Homo sapiens: one gene and its partners. The protein of the gene in region 3 interacts with the protein of the main gene of each other region in a pairwise test. Each region holds a gene or a part of one and is shown on either strand. Other genes may lie near its edges.

Region 1 (7,959 bases), on a different chromosome or scaffold from region 3:
GATGGAGGTTGCAGTGAGCTGAGATGGTGCCACTGCACTCCAGCCTGGGCAAGAGAGTGAGACTGTCTCAAACAAAACAAAACAAAAAAAAACTAGGTAAAAATCTGGTCACTTAATGGCTGCGTAACCTGGAACAAGTGATTCCAGCTCCTTCTAGCTCTAGAACTATGCTCCTGGATCTCACTGCGACTCTGATCAGGGTAGGAAGAGTAGAACATGGTAGATTCTGCATGCCACCAGCACTCAGTCTTTGGGCTATGAGAAGGATACTCCCCCTAGAGCAGTGGACTGAATTGTTAACTGAGCTAGAGCTTCCCCAACCCCCCAAGGAAGACACTGCAGTGGCAGTTAGGCCTGGAAATCTGGGACAGGAAATCATAAATACCAGTTACTGTGTTGGACAGGTCAAATGATTGCTGACAAGGTAAAAACCTCCCCTCCCTGTGCCACATCCCGATTCTTGCTCCTGGGGTACAGCCACCAGGACCAAGTCAAACCTGCACTCTGAGAATGGGAAGGGATGCTGAACTCTCACTTTCTAAGAACCCTGAGCCCCACTCTAGGTCTGGGAATGGAAAACCCATCGAATGGAGTTCTGAGCAGGGATACGGGCTCTAACTCTGGACTTTCCATCGTATCTCTATGTGACTGCACGCAAGTTACTCTATCCAGGCTTATTAGCTGGATGTAATAAGCCCAAGGAAGGCCCAAGGCCTGATGCTGGATACTATGTGTGATACTATGTGTCTGGCCGAGTCTGGGGACACAATGTAGCTTATTACTACGTTTTACATCTTAGTAATAAGAAAAAAAACGAAATTTCTATGTGTCCTCCTTTGTTCTAATCTATGTAGCCAAGAAAGGATTAGGATGATCCTTTCTTTGATCTGGCTTGTGGCAGAGATAAGAGAACAGGGGCGAGAATCAAAAACTGGTTAAAAATCTGAGTCAGTCACTTAATGGCTGTGTGACCTGGAACAAGTGATTTAACTTTCTGGAGGCTAAACTTCATCTTTTTTTTTTTTTTTAAGAGACAGAGTCTCGCTCTAGAGCCCTGCCTGGAGTACAGTGGCACAATCTGAGCTCACTGTAACCTCTGCCTCCCAGGTTCAAGTGATTCTCCTGCCTCAGCCTCCCAAGTAGCTGGGATTACAGGCATGCGCCACCATGTCTGGCTAATCTTTGTATTTTTTATTAGAGATGGAGTTTTGCCATGTTAGCCAGGCTGGTCTCAAACTCCTGACCTCACATGATCCACCTGCTTGGGCCTCCCAAAGTGCTGGGGTCACAGGCATGAGCCACTGCCCTTGGCCTTCTTCATCTTTCTTTACAGCACTGTCGTGAAGATTTATAGCCTAACTGTGTTCTCCAGAAACTGTTATCTCCAGAAAAACAGGAAGACATTGTTCTTATAATCTTTCCTATTATTATAAAGACTGAAGAAAAGACCAATTCTCCCCCTGGCTTTTCAGACTTTGAGATAAAATCTTTCAAATTTTTTTAATTTATATTGCCCCCCACCACCTCCCTGCCAGCTGGGCAACCTTCCCACTGTTGGCCCAAGAACTCTCATGCCTGGCCATCCCAGTGTACTATCAATGCCACTGATTCACAGAAAACAGTATGTGCGCTGGTGACATTTCCAGGGGAAGGACTGGGTAAACTCACCTCGACATTCAGAGAACTGGCCTGGGAGCTGAGGTTGGCACTAGTGAGAGCAAGCGGACCCTCAAACATCTGAGCCAAGTCTTGCATAAAAGCATGATCAGGAATCCGAATGCCTACAAGCTGTAAGGCAAGGGGAAAGGGATCATGAGAAAGGTTGGAAGGGATAAGAGGGTAAGTCTTATCTGGATCCTAGTGAAAGCCAAGTGGCCTGGAGTCTGGGGACACAAGAGAAAACTTGACTCACAGGCGTAAAAGGGTTTAGGTCCTTGTTGAGCTCCTCCGAGCGTTCCATCACCAGGGTCACTGGTCCTGGCAGTAGGTCTTTCAGGAGCCCCTCAGGTACTCTCACACGGCAGTATCTGGGAAACACAGAAGAATAAATCCATTCAAAATTGAAGGGCCACTGGTGGTCCTTTCCTAGACTCTAGGCAGACGTAGAAAAGGAATCCTTCGAGTTTACAATGGGAGCCGCCTGTCTCCCTGCTTCACCTCCCTAAGAGCTTGAGCAGAAAGCAGGGCTCCAGAGGCGCACCCCTGGCTTGACGCCCATGTGCCTCTGGTCTCAGGGACTACAACAGCTGCACCGCTGTGATATCATGATAGTGGGATCAAGCTCCACGTTTTATTTTCTTCAAGGCATTCGCTATTAAATTAAGCTACTGTGTTTGTTTGCTTTTTTCCCGGGGGCCTCCCCAATTAGCACAAATACGCCAAGGGAACAGGGTCCCTGCCTTTCTCGTGTGTTGCTGCTTCCCAGCAGCATGTAGTTCAGGGCCCGGGGCACGTTAAGTCCTCGGTACATATTTCCAGTTCCGGATTCCTTGGTGAGCCTGGACAAGCCCCTCCCGCTCTCTGCGCCTCAGTCTCCCAAGCCTGTCACCGGAAACCCCTCCCGCGGTGCCGCCCCTAGCGGGGCCGGGTCGGGGCGGCCTTACCTGTAGACGTCGGCCACGCGGCCGAGGCATACGGCCAGAGGCTTGGCCTCGCTGCGACCCTTGAGGCGGTACACAGCGCGCAGAGCCGCCGAGCAGCTCGCCGCGCAGGCCAGGCCGTACAGCGTATCGGTGGGGACGGCCACCACGGCGCCGGCGCGCAGCTCGGCCACGGCGGCCCGCAGCGCCTCGGTCCAGCCGGCGCGCTCCGGGCTCGCGGCCTGCACGGCCCCGCTCCCCGGGAGCCGCAACAGCCGGGCGCCGGGGGCCGCCGGAGCGGGACTCGGCGGGCGGAAGAGGCGACCGCTCCGGGAGCCAGCAGGCCCCTCGCTCAACCCCACGCTGGCAGCCACCGCGGCCCTCATCCCCCTGCACCGACGCGCCGGAGACATCCGCCCAGGCCCGCTTCCGGGAGGAAGTGACGCTCCCAGCCAGCTTCCGGTCCAGGAGACTCGGCCCCGCCTCTGCGCCGGGCAGCTTAAAGGGACCACGACCCCCAGGAGGATTGAAGGAGACCGGTGGGGACGGGGCGGGGCGCAGCCTTGCGAAGCCCTAACGCAGCGCTGGGGAGGGGGGCGGCCGAAAGGGGGGCGGTGGTCGGGCCGCGCAAGCGGAGATGGAATGGGGCCCGGGCTCAGACTGGTCACGGGGGTGAGAGGGGGCCCGTCGGGGCGGGAGGAAGGGGCTTGGCCCCGCGCAAGCGCCGGCCCTGACCGTCTGTCTCTCGCTCTCTCCCGGGCAGGGAGGCTGCCGGCGTGGACCGCGGGAAGGCGGGGCTGGGGCTCGGCGGGAGGCCACCCCCACAGCCGCCCCGGGAGGAGCGCGCCCAGCAGCTGCTGGACGCGGTGGAGCAGCGGCAGCGGCAGCTCCTGGACACCATCGCAGCCTGCGAGGAGATGTTACGGCAGCTGGGCCGCCGGCGCCCGGAGCCGGCTGGTGGCGGGGTTAGTGCCCACCCTGGGCTGGGCTGGGGTGGGGTGGGGTCTGCCCACTGGCTAGGCTGGCCAAGCCCTAGCTTACCCTGGAGGGGGGAAGTATGTCTCCGCCGCTTTATCCCTAACCTCCTTTGATCTGGTGAGAGGTTTCGAAAAAGTTAATACTATCCAAATGCCAAATGGCCACATCCTTGTGGGGCCTAATCCAAGGCCTTGCCTCCCAGCCTCACTTTTTTCCTTTCTGTTCCAACTAGAACGTCTCAGCCAAACCTGGAGCGCCCCCCCAGCCGGCTGTCTCCGCCAGAGGCGGCTTTCCAAAGGATGCTGGCGATGGAGCTGCGGAGCCCTGACCATCCCCGAGCAGAATACCCTGACTTCTCTCCCTCCCCAGGGCCGGTGGCTGGACTCTGAACAACTCCCTTCAGTAAAGGGGCCAGTCTTCACTGGCAGTGGCTGGTACTTGGCTCTCAGCCTGGAGTGGCAGCTCTGCTAGCAGCTGGGTTCACTCCCACTTCATCCTGGCTGAAAGCAGTGCTGTGCTTTGAAATGCAGCCAATGAATACCCAGTCTGATTACCCAGATTTGGGCAGACCAGCAGTGCTCGCCAGAGTGGTCTGGCCTGCTATGGGGGATCCAGGTGGTGTTACATGTCCATTTCATGTTTTGGGGGCTTTTAGCCCCACAAAACACCTTCAGTAGAGCCTTGATTAAAAGGAAACCTGCAGACTCTCCTGGTGACCGACGTTTCCTTTCTGTCCCCTCTCCAAGACTGATGGCTGGGAAGGGGGGAGTGGTGGAAAAATGTCAACTATGGGCAGGGTTGGTAAGAAATGCCACAGATACTACCAGATTTAAATAAGCATTTAATTAGGATTTCATTAGTATTTAATATTGCTTTTTCAATTCCAAAAAGTTAAATTTTCACTTTTTAGCAGATATTTTAAAGTACAATATTAAGTTTATACAAAATGAGCAATTAAGCAAACACCATTATTTCACATTCTTCAAAAATACAAATTCATATTTATTCTTTTTTGGGTTTGGAGGTTTCTTCCTTTGGAAGTACTGAACCTGTAACGTTTTCACATCGCTCAGTGGAAGTCCGTTGTTCCCATGTTTCACACTTACTTTTACATAATCCAAATAAAACTATTTGGGATTTTAAAAGTTGTCACCAAGACCCCGGCCAATGATTAGTGTATGTCAAAAAAAAGGGCTCTTGGGGGCTCTTGCCTTTCCTGGCTAGAAGATCTGAGCCAGAAATTCAGCAAAAATCTGTTTCCAGCCACCCTCCCCAAATAGGGACTAGAAAGAGTTCACAGGAAAAGGGAACAGACACCTTGAACTCTGACCCCCACCCCCACATTCTCCAAAACACAACGAAGGATGTAGACTGTTGAGTCAAATAGCCCTTGGGAGGCCTGAGAACACAGCAGGAAAAGGGCAAGAGAAAGCCTCTGACTTGGCACACTACGAGGATAACAAGGATATTGCAAAAAACACCCCTGGGTTTTGGTGCAAAAAGGTTTTATGAAAAATTTTCCCATAAGAAAAAGTAGAAACTGCATTGAGCTGAGAAAGTGACACTACATTATCACCCAATTTTTGGCCCAACAGGCACACCACCAAAAGGGCAGTGTGTGGTTTTAAACCTCAATTCCAGTAAAAAAGCTTGTACTATGTACACATTGACATAAAGATCCAGTTTAATTTGCATTTTTCAGTGCAGACTGAGAAGCCCTCTCTTGAACAGGAGTAACAGTGAGAAATGCCCAGTGGTCGTCGGCTTCCCCAAAGGGCATCAGAAGAAATACAGGACTGTTTCCCTCTCTCCCTAAAAAACATGCAAGAGGAAACAGGCCAAAATGGCTAACCAATCAGAAATATGCTTCAGTTTTGTTGCCTCCACCCCCAAATATTAAGGAACAGACAATTTCTGATCTATGTCACAGCAGAACTATTTGCATATTGGATCTATGAAAATCCTTCTGCTTTGGCTGAAGTATATTCTAAAACTTGTCTATTCTATAGCCTGAGAATTGAAGATAAAATGGGGGAGGTGGAGTAAAGGAAGAAAGTTGATAATGATTCATGGGATGTAATGTTTGTTTATAGGATTTAATGAAGGCTGGAGGCCTTTTTGCTTAAGGAACCAACACAGGTAGTATGGGGAGCAGTATGGAAATGGCTCATGTTGCCCCCTGCCACCCATGCCTCCCCAAACATATTTCTGATTGGTGGTGTAAGACAATTGTAAACTCTTGAGAAATATTGTTGCAGTTCCACAAATCAATGGTTTCAATCACTCTGGAAAAGTCTTTAAGGACAATGGATGTGATTACAAATATAAAAGTCTAGAAGGTGCCAGGTTTCTACCTAGGAACAATCTGTTCCTTCCTTTCAGGCATCATTTTGTAATGGTGAAGAGGGAAAAGATGGCGAGAGACCAAGAAGTGATGAAAAAGGGCCTCAACAGTCAGCAGAAAACAGGACCCACAGCAGTTCTTCAGAGAGCCTGAGGGGGCGCCCTGGGGCACACAGGGAAGGCTTGCATAGATTGAGCGGTTGCTGAGAATGCATAATAGTGTTTCCCTATGGACAGTCTCACAGCACAGGGCTGATTGAGCGGAAAAACGCTGCCAGGCCAGGGCCACATGGGACAACGACCATCAAGCTACACATATTGCACCAAGGTAAGTGCTTTTCTTTTCACACCTCAATTTAACTTTTTATTCTGAGCAAAAAATAAAACTTTGTGGAAAGTATATATATGTATATATACACACAAAAGAAATTGCAGCAATCGGGTTAAAGATAAAATAACCTAAAGTGCTTTTTTATTTTATTATTTCTTTAATATACCAATATGAGGTTCTGCAAACTTGTCCCTCTGGACACATTCAGCATTATACAAAGTCTCTCAGGAAAACCCACCCACCCTCCAATATCCCCATCAGTCCACAGCCTTGACCCTGAAAATAAAACTCTCCGATCTACCAACTATCCCAGAGGTGAAGAAGAGAAGCCCCTTGCCTTTTACTCAGAGAGATCTTCACATCTTAAGGCCCCTCCTGGGCTTTGTACCATGATCTCCTTCTAAACGGAGGTGGAATTCAATAAATGACACCACTTCTGTCACCAAACTGGTGGTGCCCCCATGAGACTGGCCAGACCCTGCCAGCAAAGACTGGGCCACCTTCCCTCAATGCCCAACCTACCTGCCTGGGAAGGGCCAAGTTCACTAAGGCAGTTTGGTGGTGCCAGCCAGTTTCCTTACCACCTCCTAAGTCCATGAACCCCAATCCCTGGTGCTAAGCACCCTTTGAAGCGGTTGTCTAATTGGAGATGTTAGTAGGAGCTAGAAGATAACGTACAGGGTGAAAATGGTTAAGTTTACTATGGGAGGGGAAAAAGGCTTGATTTTTACCTGCTAGAATTCTACAAATCCTCCCTAACCTCACCCTAGGTTCATTTCCCAAGTTTGGGAAACCACACTCACCATGAAGGTTCTTTCTGGCTCCAGCTTAGCTAGGGGCCCTCTCTTCTCCAAGGTCCTCGGCACTAGAGACCAGGCTTATGGAAGGACAGGTAGGAAAAGAGAACTGGAAAAGGAGGGAAAGAAAGACTGCCTATCCTGGGAAATAAACCTGATCTTCACAACCACTCACTGGCATTTTAAGCACATTCCTGATTTTTCAAAAGCTGATTGGATCTGATAGTCTCTCTTGTAATCTAGAGTCACCCTCAAAAGGCAGATACTTCAGCTTCTTCAACTGGAAAAATCTGTCAGCCTAAACACTGTTTAAGATGCTGCTTCGTCACCCCCGATCTTTGAGAGTGAAAAGGCCACTGACCTGGGTAGGGCCCAACATGAGCACAGCCCTGGCTAACCAAGAAGAGTCGCTATTTAAACTGTGGGTGCTTCAGATGTCCTTCCCTGGGCTCCTATTTCCCACTTCCGCCCCAGGGAACCCAAATCCCAGGTGACCACAGGATGGGGATATGGGAAGGTCATTACTGCCCTCTGATACAAGCTTACTTTGGGGTCCCATCACTACTCTCTCAGAAGTTGTAAACAGCAAGGGCCCTACCTCAAAACTTCCCATGGGTGCGAGGCCCAGAGACAGCCAAGGACAACTCATGCTCAGCAGTTGGTTTTCCAGGAGGACTGGAAACCTCCTGCCTTATCAACTTCTGCTGAGGTCAATGGTCAACAGAAGCCACAATCCTTTTGGGGAAGGGAGTGCAGAAGGTCAAAAAGAAGTCAATTCCCTAGACCAGGCATGGTGGCTCACACCTGTAATCCCAGCACTTTGGGAGACTGAGGCGGGAGGATCACCTGACGTTGGGAGTTCGAGACCAGCCTGACCAACATGGAGAAACCCCGTCTCTACTAAAAATACAAAATTAGCCAGGCGTGGTGG
Region 2 (7,023 bases), on a different chromosome or scaffold from region 3:
TAAAGGGCGGAATGAGTAGAAGCAGAAGCAAGGTGAAGAGGCAGTGAGCAAGAAGCAAGACAAGAAACAGAAGTTGAGCAACCAAAACACAAATAAGATTAAAAAGTGAGTAAGAAGCTCCTGTGGCCAGCTAGGTCTGGACCAAACCTGTCAGGGGCAGCTCCTCAGAGATGCGCATGTGCATTAGAGAGAAAAAGTATCCTTAAAATGACCCCGTATGATAATAAGCTTATTAAAGCTGATGCATATGGACTGCATATCATGCATGTACTTAAGATTATGGGATGGAGGTGACAGGCAAGCACACAAGGGCCAAAGTAACATAAGCAACCCACCTATCAATCAAAAGGCAGATGCTGGCTAGAGATTAGGCAGCCTTGGGAAGAGAAGAAAAATAAACATATAAAAGAGCCCAAAATACACCAAACTGGTGCTGATCTCACTTCGCAGAGATTGGTCCACCCTCCCCTCTCTGAGAGTGTAATACTGTGCTGAATAAGCTTTTGCTGCAAAAGCAATGAATATTTGTTTTGCTGTTTGTGTGTGTCACATCCAATTCTTTGTTCGGGACACCAAGAGCCTGGAGCTGCGCTGCACCATCAGATAACACTCCGGAAGGGGGTCCTTACCTGGAGATGGCCACTCTTCCCCAGTTTCTGCTCCATGAGACTGTAGGAAGTGATCGTGATGAAGAGGGGCATGGCGAAGTTGAAGAAGGACATGGTGAAGAGGAAGCTGGTGAAGTTTCTACAGGGAGAGCGGGTGGAGGATTGGGGTTAGCTCTCAGGGATGGCCAGCTGCCCTCAAGGACCCACCAGCTCTGCCCTAGATGATCGGTTGTGGGGAAATGCCCCATTCAGACAAGCTCGCAGTGTGGTTGCTCCCGGGTCCCAGGTGAACTCCCTTTAGGAGCCAGGGAGCTACAAGGAGGAAGAGGCCTCTTTCTTGTTCAAGTGCTCAGCCCTGCTTTCCTGTTTGTCCCCCAAGCATGAAGAATGGGAAATTTTAGTTTGGGAAACATGTTCACCCAATGGTGGGGATGTCAGTGGGCCAAGAGAAAGGAACATTCAAGGAGCATTCTAGGCCCAAAGGTTTTAAAAGGAGACGGGATAACAAGAAGACTGGATACTGTGTCACTGAAGAAATGGTTGAAGGCACCACAGAAGAGCTTGGGTTCCCAGGTAGTGGTCATGGGGAGGTGAAGGGAATAGTGGGAGTCCCAGGGAGACAGATTCCCATTTTCTGAAGGGAAGACTATGTCACCTTGGAGCCGTCCACCAGGGAGGGGCAGCTGGAAGGACTGGACCCTGGCTGGGGAGTGCCATGGAGGGACACTTGGACCAGGCCCAGCGTTCTCAAGAATGCATCACCTGGAAAGCCTGTCATCCAGTGCAGATGCCTCATGATTAAACACCATGGGTAAAGCAGATGAATGCAACTTGGCTCTGGTGGAAGCAAGAGGGGCTGGAGCCCATGTGACCATTCCTCAAGGCAGTTCCTAAAGGATCCCCCTAAGCCCTTGTCTCCCTAGAGCCTCCTGATGGGGCAGTACCAGAACACGAGCCCCATGAGGGTGGGGACCCTCATGCATTCTGTCCTATTTCTCCAGGGATTGCCTCATAGCGTATGCTCAGGGCATTCCCTCCCAATGCAAGGACCTTAATGTTCTTTGAATCTATTGTACCAAGGGCGTGGCTCCCTCTAGAAATTGATGAGGTCAGAGCCATGATGGTCGACTGTGCTGAAGATGGCTAAGAGGTGGTGCGGCTTGGTGACTGTTACCACTGACACAAGCCAATGGCTCCCTGTATGATGTCTCTTTTTGGGTTCAACTCTGGGTCCCAATTTTCACAGCATTCCCATCACCTGGCCAGTTTTCAGAACAGGCTTTTTCCAGTCCCACTGTCCACCTGCAGGTGGGTATCATGATTAAGAAGTTGAGATTGTCTGGCAAACGTTGACATTTCCCCATTTGGATTTTCAGCTGGGGCACCCTTGTCATAGGAGTTCAAAGCCAAGATTCCCATGGATAGGAGCCTCGAAGCTGCTCCTCCCACCTCACCTGTCCCCCTTGGAGTAGTCCAGGGTGCAGCATGTCCCCAGTGGCTCATAGTCGTAGTGACCCCAACCCAGAAGGGGCAGAGCTGCCCAGAAGGCAGAAGACAGCCACACGAAGAGCACCAGAGAGACGGCTGAGTTCCAGGCCAGCTGGCTACCTGCACAGGACAGAGGAAGAAGAGGAGGTTGTGAGGAGGAGATGGCCTGATAGAGTGAGAAAGAATGGACTTCCTGATCTCGAAGAGTGTCCCTTCAAGTGATCCACCAGCCTCAGTCTCCCAAAGTGCTGGGATTACAGGATTGAGCCACTACATCCTGCCAGAAGGAGGTTTTCTTATCCCTGTGTTACGGTCTAAAAAATTGAGGCTGAGAGAGGGGTTAACTAAGCAACTCACCAAAATGAGAACCCCAGCTCTGATGCTTAATAACTCAGAGCCTCAGGCAAGTGAAGAGCTTCTTTGAGCCCCAGTATTCTCGCCCACAATGGGAATGATAATCCTTGCCTCAGAGGATTGTTATGAAGAATGAAATAGATAATGGATGGTGAAGGTCTCCAAATAGACACACTATACCATCTTCTTCAGAGGACAGAGACGAGGGAGTGGCAAAGAGACAGATACGTTTTCAGAGACAAAGTTCAGGAAGAAGCATAGGCAGGGGTTCAGGTGAGGGTCATAGGGGATGGAGGCAGAAGTCTGGACTTACCACCATCCTCAGCACTTGCTCAGAATCAGGCCACTGCCCCTGCTTCCAGGACACCCTCTGAGAATGCTTGACTCGGGGGTTGGGGCTCAATCTCAGTGCCAATGGCAGAGGCTGGGTCCCAGCAGCATCTTTTGATATGAACCAGCCATGCTGATTTGACCTCCTCTAGTCCCTTCCCTGAAGCCCCCCTCTCTGCTGCAGTGTCATTGGGTCCTTCCCATTCAGTGGTTCCTCCTGGATCTGGCTTCAGGATGCACTTCCCAGGTGCCCTCCTCTGTCTACTGTTTTTTTGTCATACTCCTTTGTATATAAGATACCAGGGCAGAGGACAGTTCTCCAGATGGGTTTTGATCGGGAGAGAAGAGCATGTCTACAACCTCCCTCATCTGACAGTTTGCTTCTACTGATACGGCTCCAGATGGAGTTTGCTTGGATGTGACCTTCTGATATGAACTGAATGTTTGTGTCCCCTCAAATTTATATGTTGAAGCCCTAATCCCCAATGTGATGGCATTTGGAGGTGGGGCCTTTGGGAGATAACTAGGCCATAAGGGTGGAGCCCCCATGATGTGATTAGTGCCCTTATAAGAAGGGACACAATTAGCTGGACATGCTGCATGCGCCAGTAGTCCCAGCTAGTCAGGAGACTGAGGTGGAGAATTGCTTGAACCCAGAAGGCGGAGGTTGCAGTGTACTGAGATGGTGCCACTACATTCTAGCCTGGGCAATAGAGTGAGACTCTGTTTCAAAAAAATGAAAGAAGGAACACAAGAGTGACAATCTCTCTCTTTTAATGTGAGGACATGGCAAGAAGGTGAACATCTATAAACCAAGAATCAAGCCCTCACCGAACCTGACCATGCTGACACCTCGCATTTGGACTTCCCAGCCTGAATAACTGAGAAATAAATTTCTATTGTTCAAGCCACCGAGTCGATGGCATTCTATTATAGGAGCCTGGGCAGACTAAGACACCTCCCATCCCAACTGTGGGCACGATAATTACGTGCAAGGACAGGAAGACTCAATATAGTTAAGATGTCAGTTCTTCCTGTCTTTTTTTAAAAAAATTTTTGAGACAGAGTCTTGCTGTGTCACCCAGGCTGGAGTGCAGTGGCGTGATCTCGGCTCACTGCAACTTCCACCTCCCAGGTTCAAGCGATTCTCCTTCCTCAGCCTCTCAAGTAGCTGGGATTACAAGCTCATGCCACCATGCCCAGCTAATTCTTGTATTTTTAGTAGAGATGGGGTTTCACCATGTTGGCCAGGCTGGTCTCGAACTCCTGACCTCAAGTTATCTGCCCACCTCAGCCTCCCAAAGTGTTGGGATTACAGGCATAAGCCACCATGCCTGGCCTTTTCTTTTCTTCTTCTTCTTCTTCTTTTTTTTTTTTTTTTTATTGAGGCGGAGTCTCATTCTGTTGCCCAGGCTGGAGTGCAGTGGTGCCATCTCAGCTCACTGCAACCTCTGCCTTCCAGGTTCAAACAATTCTCTGTGGGCACAATAATTAATATCTACCTGGACCATTGTGCTGCCTCAGACTTTCAGCTTTAGAAACAGATGGCCAAGGTGACATGCCTACAACCACCCAGGGATGGAGTAGATGAATTCAGACCTCCTCATTCCCCTTTGCCTGCCTTCACACTGCTCTGCCATGCTCTCAGTATAGAAAGGGCTTTGATCTAAGGCCTCTGGCACAGGGATTAACTGTTCTATATTGAGGCAGAGAAGCCTGTTGCTATCTGAGAAGGTGGTGTGTGTGTGTGTGTGTGTGTGTGTGTGTGTGTGTGTATAAGATGGTCCAAGGGAGCATTAGGGGCAGGGGCTGGGATGTAAGGAGTGGGAGAAGTGCTCTGAGGCCAAGTGGACAAGAGGGCTAACCTATCGCCACTCAAAATGATGAGACCGATGGCAGCATTTTGGCCTGGAGAGAGGCATATGACAGGAGAGACCCATGAGGGGCAGTGAATTTTCAGGGAAGGGGGCTATACATGTGACTATGGCAAGGGAAGTTCTGTGGATTCCAAAGAGGACATGCCATGGTTTGAGGCTGTGCTGGCTATAGACCTCACAGCAGCCTCTGTGCTGGACAAATTCATAGCTCAGGACTTGGAGGTACCAGGTCATGCCCAGTGCTGGCTCTGCCCTTAGTAGCGAGGCAAGCTGCTTAACTTCTCTGTGCCTCTGCTTCCGAGGCTGTGAGCTGAAGGTTTGCTAGGAGGGTTAGCTGAGCCACAGCTCCCCAAAACATGTTTATGTACCCCTGGTGGTAAACAGGGTTCTAGATGGTCTCTGGTGAACAGGTTTTTATTTTAATTGTATTAAAATTATAAGAACATTAAACCTGTGATTTCCCAGATGTTGTTTAGAATGAGCTTGTAGCAGGTGTTTACATTTTAAAAAATGAGTCACTTTTAAGAAAAAAAAAATTAAGGAAAAATGGAGCAGTTTGTACACTGATATGGCCAATTATGAAGATGGTATTTGACAGTGCAGCTTGTGAAATCTAGAGCTGGACAGTTTTCATGAAGCCTCATGGAAGTGTGGGGTGCCAGGGCACATGCCCAGCTACACACACATACACACAGCCTCTCTGCGCCTGTCTGCAGAGTAGTGCCTGTCTGCAAGGGCATTTTCTGTATCCCTGATCTCATTTCATTTTCAAAATAAAACTGAGATTGGTTATTAAAATCATCTCAGCCGGGTACGGTGGCTCACGCCTGTAATCCCAGCACTTTGGGAGGCTGAGGTGGGTAGATCACGAGGTCAGGAGTTCAAGACCAGCCTAGCCAATATGGTGAAACCCCATCTCTACTAAAAATACAAAAATTAGCCAGGTGTGGTGGCACATGCCTGTAGTCCCAGCTACTCAGGAGGCTGAGGCAAAAGAATCACTTGAAACCAGAAGGCCGAGGTTGCAGTGAGCCGAGGTCACACCACTGCACTCCAGCCTGGGCAATAGAGCGATTCCGTCTCAAAAAGAAAAAGAAAATCATTTCGCAGAGGAGGAGACTAAGGTTCAGAGAGGATCCCTGACTTGCCCAAGGTTGCGGTAATGGCAAGAGAGGCCCAACAGCTCTCCTGCACACTCTCCCACCCTCCCTCCTTTCCTGAAATGAGTGCCTATGCATGCACACTCACACCTACCCACACTTCCCTGTACTGGGAAACACGGAGCAGTAGCTAGTTATGACTGCCCCTCCCTGCCTCTTATCCTCTCCACACTGCATCGGTGTCCCTCCACTCCAGGAGCCCAGATACATACGGGTGCAGTAGTGGTGATAACGCCCCCATGCGATGGCTGCACTGCTGCAGATGCTGGCCAACGCTGTCACAAAGCCCTGGAAGCCGTGAGCCTGGCAGCCGTCCGAGCCGTAGGGCCAGCGCCTGTGGGAGACACTGGGCACCAGTGACCTCTCCTCCGATCCTTTCCACCTCCCACACCTGCCAAGTACAGCTTGGAGTGTGTGTTCCTGAATGCTGCCCTTCTTCTCTGAAGAGGGCCTTAATATTGGTGTCTTTCCTATGAGGCGTTGGAGCTCAAGTAACTGGGCTGAAGGGGTGGAGCCCAATGCACACTCTCCAGGCTGGGTGACTTTGACTGCACCATGGTTGGGCCATAGGCTCTCTCTGCGTGATCAGATCCCTCTGTCACAGGAGAGCTCATGCCTGTATTTGATAGGTGGGGAAACTGACATTCAAAGAGGCAAAGATACTGAAGCCAAGGTCACACAGAAGATGAAGGCAAAGTCAGAGGGGAGATCCCAGGCCTCCCCAGCCTAAAAGGGCAAGCAAAGGTGGAAACTTCAATTCTCTGTGGGAGGAAGAGTTCTCACTGATGCAGACCCCCCAGGCTGGTCAGCACTGAGCATGCACATCCGGGGGGGCTCCAGCCTCCGTCTGTAGTGTCCAAAACCAGAATGAGAATGTCCAGTCTGCTTCAGAAAACAATTTTATAAACACCTTCTGAAGCTGTGATGGAAGACCCTGGTTTTTGTATAAGGAGGTATTAGACACTAGCTAGTTATGACTGCCCCTCCCTGCCTCTTATCCTCTCCACACTGCATCGGTGTCCCTCCACTCCAGGAGCCCAGATACATACGGGTGCAGTAGTGGTGATAACGCCCCCATTTGTGTTCACAAACACTTACGTAGAGTCCTAGGTATCAAGCATTATTTTAAGTTATTTACACATAATAGAAGTAAATACTTCCAACCACCTATATGAGTTAGGAAATAATATCCGATTTATGGAAGAA
Region 3 (7,023 bases):
ATGCTCATGAGACAAGTATATTTCTTCTTTCATGAACTGCTTACTTGTGATTTGCACACTTTTCTTACGGTATTTTTCTTATATATTTCTAAGAGCTATTTCAACATTAAGTATATTATTTGTCTCATTTACATAATTTAATATGTATTTCTAATATTAGACTCTTGTAAGATGTATCTCAATTTCAGAGATGTTAAAATGTGAAAAAATAAGCACCTAAAAATCAAGCATTTTGGGCAGACTGCTTGAACCCAGGAATTGGAGACCAGCCTGGGCAACAGGGCAAAACCCTGTGGCTACAAATTTTTTTTTTATTTCTGAGACGGAGTCTCACTCTAGTGCCCAGGCTGGAGTGCAGTGGCGTGATCTCAGCTCACTGCAACCTCTGCTGCCCAGGTTCAAGCAATTCTCCTGCCTCAGCTTCCCGAGTAGCTGGGATTACAGGTGCCTGCCACTGTGCCCGGCTAGCTTTTGCATTTTTAGTAGAGACGGGGTTTTACCATCTTGGCCAGGCTGGTCTTGATCTCCTGACCTCATGACCCACCTGCCCCGGCCTCCCAAAGTGCTGGGATTACAGGCGTGAGCCACTGCGCCTGGCCAAAAAATTTTTTAAAAATTAGCTAGGCGTGGTGCTGCGTACTTGTGGTCCCAGCTACTTAGGAGGTTAACGTAGGACAATCACTTGAGCCAGGGAGGTGGAGGTTGCAGTGAGGTAAGATCACACCACTGCATTCCAACCTGCATGACACAGCAAGTCACTGTATCCCAAAAAAAAAAAAAAAAAAAAATCAAGCATTTTACTTTCCTCATTTACCTTTTACCTCTGCACATGGGGTTTTACTTTTTTACCTCTTTCATCCAACTGTAATTTATGTTTCCATGTTTTGTATTTTATTAAGATTTTTTTCTTTCATATTTAGTATCTCTAAAATTGCCACCTATCTTCTATAGACGTCCTAGATTTTATGAGACATGGAAATAAAAATAAGGATTTCATTTTATGTTTCTCCAAATAATTCACCAACTTTTAAATTGACTAGCATATTATTTCTTTGATATGACATTTTATTATATTTTGTAAATACTTACATACACACAAACATGTATATAAAAAAAACTTGAGCCTGTTTCTACCATGGATCCCTGATTACCATGGACCCCCAATTAATCTACCTAGCTTTGCCTCAGTAATACACGTGGAGCTCTACAAAAGCTTCCTAACAGTTCTCCATGACAATTCTTGCCTTCCTGAATGCTATTTTCCATATGGCTGTCAGAATGCTCTTAATCTTAAAATACAAATCTCATCAAATCCCTTTAATAGACCCAAATTGCCTGAGGTATTAATATAATGACAAAACTCAACATGGCAAATAAGGACTCCATGACTTCTGGAACCTCATCTTTCTGCTCTATGGCTAATCTGGCCTTCTATCATTTCCTCAAAAGGGTCAAGGTCCTTCTCATCTCTAGTCTCACTTGACGCTGTCCCCTCTTCACTGAATGCTGTTTATTGCTACTCTCTATCTGGTTAAATCCCACACTGGTACTGCAGGGCCCAAGCTAACTGATACAGCTACTAGAAACACAGAAATCATTTGGATTAAAAAAAAAGAATCCCTTGATATAAGCAATAGATAAAAGGGAACTGGGATGTAGTAATCAGAGATCCATAGTAGAAACACACCCAAGTTATTTATATACATGTTTGTGTGTACATAAATATTTATAAAATTTAATGTCATATCTAAGACATTTATTTCATTTATTGTATATATTCTCCTTGCTCAACTCTATCTTAGGTACACTATGAAAGCAGGAAGATGTGGGGAGGGGCAGAGGAGGGGAGATTAATTTCTTACATTTATCTTACTCTTCTGCCTTAGCCTGCTCTTTGAGCCTAAAAACAATTATAATAGAGAAGTACTCTCATGCTTAAAATAAAAGTAATAGAAGTGGTACCAAGCTATTCCACTTGAGTAAACAAATAAGCTGCTAAGGCTGCTTTCCTAATTATGGAGTTGCTACAGAGAAAACTAAGTAAAAACAAACTTTGTTTAGAAATTTGTCAATTTTCACTGAAAGAGAAATCTAAACTTTGTAAAAGTTTAAAAAGGTTTTACCAACTTTAAAATAGTAATTCACCCTAGAATAGTATCTCCTTATAATAAAACCTGTGTCCAGTTTTTTAAAAAAAAAGTCATATAGATACACAGATACTATTTCACAGCTTCATCCATTTATCTTTCTTCAGAGAAGTTCAATATGTATATATATACCCTAGTATATATGGTATATATTCTAGTGAAACATGCTTTCATCAGAAGCAGAAGAGATGGTGCAAAACAAAGTAACACAAAAAACAATGAAAACATTTTCAAAATGAATTTGGATTAGCAAATTTTTAAAACCAAGATTCAACGTGGCAAGGGCACAGCAAGAAAGGTATTTTCATACTGGTTAGGGGGTAAACTGGTAAAATCTTTCTGGGAAAGCGATTTCACAAACTATACACTAAGAGTCTCCAAAATATCCCTCTCTTTAAGCCAATGATCCAATTTCCAGGTATTTTCCCTAAGAAATAACCAAAAATATAAACAAGCATTGATAATAAAAGGAGACACCTACATGTCTGGCTCTGCTAGGGTTTTACAAATAGTAACCCTCAAACCATTTAACAGATAAGGAAAAACCAAAGCACATAATATAAGTAACTTCAATAAGGTCAGAGAGCTTATAAGCAGTTGAGCCAGGATCTGAACCCGGGCAATTCCACTCCAGAGCAGACACTCTTAAACTACTATATTATGTTGCCTTTTTAGATAAATGCCCAGTGTTTTACTTCCCAAAGTAAAACATCTGGAAATAAACATCTAACAAGAGAACAATGGTTGACTAACTTATCCATCCATAAAACTGATATTAAGCAGCATTAAAATATTTAAAAAGAGTTACTGACAGACAAATGCTTCTGATGTTAGATAAGAACAGACTACAAAACAATACTGCATATGTATCATGATCCCTATTAAAAAATACATATTCGTATACACATTAAGATAGCTAACTGTTACTACTAAATATATAACTGCTAATCTTCCACACAAAGGAATTTTGAGCAACCTAGACATTCCCTCAACAGAACTGTTAAAACATAAAGTTACAACAGCATTACTTACTCTTTTTATCTGAGGAGCTACTGAAATCTATACCACCAAGGCCTTCATTGCCTGCAGTTGAAGTAGCTGCTGTAGTTCCCAAAGTCAACCCTAAAGCATTCTGTCCAAGTCCTATAAATAAAACATAACTTATAAATTCCATCAAAAGACTACAACAATTTCCCCTTACTGATCAAAGGACTCTAATGCTTTTAAAGTTGGATCCTAGATTTTCTTCATATTTGATTTAGGCAAACAACAAGAAACAAGCCTGGAGATGTTTTGGCCAAAGACTGATAACCTTTCTTGAATTCGATGGCATATGCAGTTTGGATGATGCGATTTTTCATTATTACGAGGGCCAGAACATATATCAATTCAGTATGTAGGCACTCAATCTTCACTTGTTATAAAGGGGTTTTGTTACAGAGGGCTTTTAAACCCTCTCTACAAAAGCAGTTTCAGTTGGTGTATTTTCAGGTGAATACATCTTGTCTTACAAACACACTTTGGAACTACATACTTTTAAGATAATCTAGTGTGAATTTATAACATTTGAATATAACATGTATTGAATATAATTTCATACTCCCAAGTTCGTTTCACAAAACTTAAAAAAAAGTATTAGAATTCATTTGCTTATTTACATCTTCCCTCACTGACAAAAGGAATAAAAAGGACCAGACTACGGTTAATCATAAGTCATTAACGTACACTTGTGAGTCAAGCGCAAAATTTCAAGCATCTTGTGTTGATAAATCTGTATTTCTTTTTTATTGTTATTATTGTTTTTGAGATGGAGTTTCGCTCTTGTTGCCCAGGCTGGAGTGCAATGGCATGATCTCGGCTCACTGCAACCTCTGCCTCCCAGGTTCAAGTGATTGTCCTGCCTCAGCCTCCCAAACAGCTTGGATTACAGGCATGCATCACCATGCCCAGCTAATTTTGTATTTTTAGTAGAGATGCGGTTTCACCATGTTGGTCAGGCTGGTCTCGAACTCCTGACCTCAGATGACCCACCTGCCTTGGCCTCCCAAAGTGCTGGGATTACAGGTGTGAGCCACCGTGTCCAGCCTAATAAATCTATACTTTTATAAGACCATGCATTACTGAGCTAATACAATTTTTGTTCTTTTTAGAAGAGATGTTATCTCTAGATCAGTTTACTGACTCCTTAAACAGGCTCTTCTTTGTTTCCTTATCTGGTTAGTCAATATTGAGAAAGAGGAAAATGTATTTCTAAAATATGGCTAATAGGCTGGGTGCGGTGGCTTACGCCTGTAATCTCAGCACTTTGGGAGGCCAAGGCAGCCGGATCACTTGAGGTCAGAAGTTTGAGACCAGCTTGGCCAACATGGTGAACCCCCTCATCTCTACTAAAAATACAAAAATAAGCCAGGTGTGCTGGCACACACCTGTAATCCCAGCTACTCAGGAGGCTGAGGCAGGAGAATCTCTCTTGAACCCTGGAGGTGGAGGTTACAGTGAACCAAGATCACGCCACTGCACTCCAGCCTGGGTGACAGAGCAAGACTCCATCTCAAAATAAATAAATAAATAAATAAAATACGGTTAATACATCCAATTATGTATGAAAACCATCATTTTATAATTTAGTTTTCATATTTAAAGGAAAATATGCAGATTAAAAAGTGACCTGCTCAAAGTACTAAAATAAAAATAAGTACATTTAAATATAAATATTTACTATTCTGGAGAATAAATACCATCAATTACCTGATGTTCCTGTGTTTGTACTCTGGAAAAGTGAACCTCCCAAACCAGCTAAGGCTCCCCCTAAAGAGAGGCCTGTTGATGCAGTTGTAGTTGTGGCTGTTGTCCCACCCAAATTATTTAGAGTAAATCCTGTGGATGCTATAAAAAGAGAGATAGTAAGCTTTCAAAAGGCAACTTATTTAACAGCACCATAGAAAAATACAAATACGATGTTTTTAAAAACTGACATCCATGATAAAATTGGCTCTTTGGAAGAACTACTTGCTAAAAATTACATACTTAAGAATAAAGAGAAATAGCAGCTTCAAAGCAAAAATCTGCGACAGAAATAAGGGCTTTGAGGAGTATTAGAATGGTACCAGGTAACTGATTCTAGATAGCAATATTGTCTTCAACCCAGGCCACCAACTTCACCTTCATATTAAATGAATCATAAGCCAGGCAAGGTTTATGCCAAGTCTTTGTCTTCCCCTGTCACTAAATGCCTCCTTCAAAACAAAGTCAATATTAACAGCTTTACATTTTACCTCTCTAGCCCTCTCCCCTGCTTTGCTCTCTAAATAGGGACATCAAGACAGCCTCTCCTGCTTCAATGCTCAAAGCTGAATTTTCTTCTTTATAAATCAATAATTTCTGTAGTAAGGTGACTATCTATGTTCTCTAACCAGATAAAATTGAAATTTAACCATTAAATGCAACGGTTTTTCATTCTGCCTCACCTGCTGGAGTTGATGTCAGAGCAGACGAAAGAGTCAGACCGCTAGCTGAGGTAGAGGTAATAGGTAGAGCAAATGGTGTGGCAGATGCTGCAGGTTTATTGAATCCTAAACTGAAGCCTGTTGTAGCTGCAGATGTAGTGGCTGGCGTTCCTATTTAAATAAATAAATGAATAAACAAACAAACAAAAATCCTACTTTACCTGTAAGTGTTCTATTATACTGGTTTCAATAAGGATCCTTAAAAGTTCATGATACTACCTTTTGCCAATAGAAGAAGGGTGTATCTGTGAGAGAAAATATGTAAAAGTTGAGACTAAACCATGGTGAACACAAAAAAGATGGCTCTTTAAGAAAAACAAAAGAATGGCCAGGTACAGTGGCTCACGCCTGTGATCCCAAAACTTTGGGAGGCCAAGATGGGCAGATTGCTTGAGGTCAGGAGTTCAAGACCAGCCTGGCCAACACGGTGAAACCCTGCCTCTAGCTAAAATACAAAAATTAGCTCAATGTGGTGGTGCACACTTGTAACCCCAGCTACTCGGGAGGCTGAGGTACGAGAGTCACTTGAACCTGGGAGGGGGAGGTTGCAGTGAGCTGAAATCGTGCCACTGCACTCCAGCCTGGGAGACAAGAGTGAGACTCTGTCTCAAAAAATAAAAAAACAGAAAAGAAAATCCAATCGATGTAACATATCAATTTTTATTCTACTCCTAGATTTACCTCTAATGCAGCATTTATCCTCCTCCTTTCCCTCTCAGCAGAAAAATGGTCCCTCCTCTCTAATACTCTATCAATAACCATTCTCTATTCCTTTCTTCTGGCCCTTGTGTCTCTGTCAGCCCCCAGCTGTCTCCCTATTCCTTTTCAGTCCTTTTTTTCTGTAGCTCTCTTTCCTCTGTTCATGTCTTAACTGACACTTCCTAGAGTTCCATTCCTACCTCCTTACTTCCCCAATGACACACCCACTTTCATCATTTCTCCTACAGGTGATTAAGTCTAAACTGACATTTACCTAAGTCCTCATTGTCTAGTTCTATCTTGATGTCCCTTTGGCCTCCTACATATCTCACCACAAACATTTTTTGCTATATCTCCAACCTTGCTCAGTTCAATTGCTTAAGCCAGAAACCAGTCATCCTTGACATCCTTTCCTTCTCCTGTACTCCATTAGTTACAAATCCTGTCGATCCTACTTCAGAAATATCCTGTACTACAAGCATCCTTAAAAACCTTAGCTTAGGCCATATCTCTCTTAAGAACTACTACAACAGCATTTATTTCTCTGGTATCAGTCTCTTCTAACCTCTAATCTATTCTTAAAATTATCTTGGTTACCTTAAAAAAAAAAAAAAAAAAAAAGACAGGTGCCGTGGCTCACGTCTGTAATCCCAGCACTTTGGGAAGCCAAA

What was found. Proteins that work in one complex are often made in the same cells at the same time.
Region 1: the proteins of NUP58 (region 3) and YRDC interact in binary tests that used the Homo sapiens proteins (3 or more experiments, as listed by UniProt).
Region 2: the proteins of NUP58 (region 3) and RGR interact in binary tests that used the Homo sapiens proteins (3 or more experiments, as listed by UniProt).

Annotation. Positions count from the first base shown.
Region 1 is NC_000001.11:37,805,189-37,813,147, forward strand, and holds the start of YRDC (threonylcarbamoyl-AMP synthase precursor), read right to left. Parts: upstream 3,021-7,959; 5' UTR 2,993-3,020; coding exon 2,604-2,992; exon of another isoform or gene 2,602-2,603; intron 2,028-2,601; coding exon 1,913-2,027; intron 1,789-1,912; coding exon 1,669-1,788; intron 1-1,668. Other genes in the region: uncharacterized protein C1orf122, read left to right, coding at 3,217-3,251, 3,343-3,544, 3,790-3,885. UniProt on the Homo sapiens protein: Cytoplasmic and mitochondrial threonylcarbamoyl-AMP synthase required for the formation of a threonylcarbamoyl group on adenosine at position 37 (t(6)A37) in tRNAs that read codons beginning with adenine.
Region 2 is NC_000010.11:84,248,050-84,255,072, reverse strand, and holds part of RGR (RPE-retinal G protein-coupled receptor), read right to left. Parts: intron 6,164-7,023; coding exon of another isoform or gene 6,152-6,163; coding exon 6,030-6,151; intron 2,217-6,029; coding exon 2,063-2,216; intron 748-2,062; coding exon 630-747; intron 1-629. UniProt on the Homo sapiens protein: Receptor for all-trans- and 11-cis-retinal. Binds preferentially to the former and may catalyze the isomerization of the chromophore by a retinochrome-like mechanism.
Region 3 is NC_000013.11:25,311,624-25,318,646, reverse strand, and holds part of NUP58 (nucleoporin p58/p45), read right to left. Parts: intron 5,765-7,023; coding exon 5,615-5,764; intron 5,034-5,614; coding exon 4,896-5,033; intron 3,291-4,895; coding exon 3,180-3,290; intron 1-3,179. UniProt on the Homo sapiens protein: Component of the nuclear pore complex, a complex required for the trafficking across the nuclear membrane.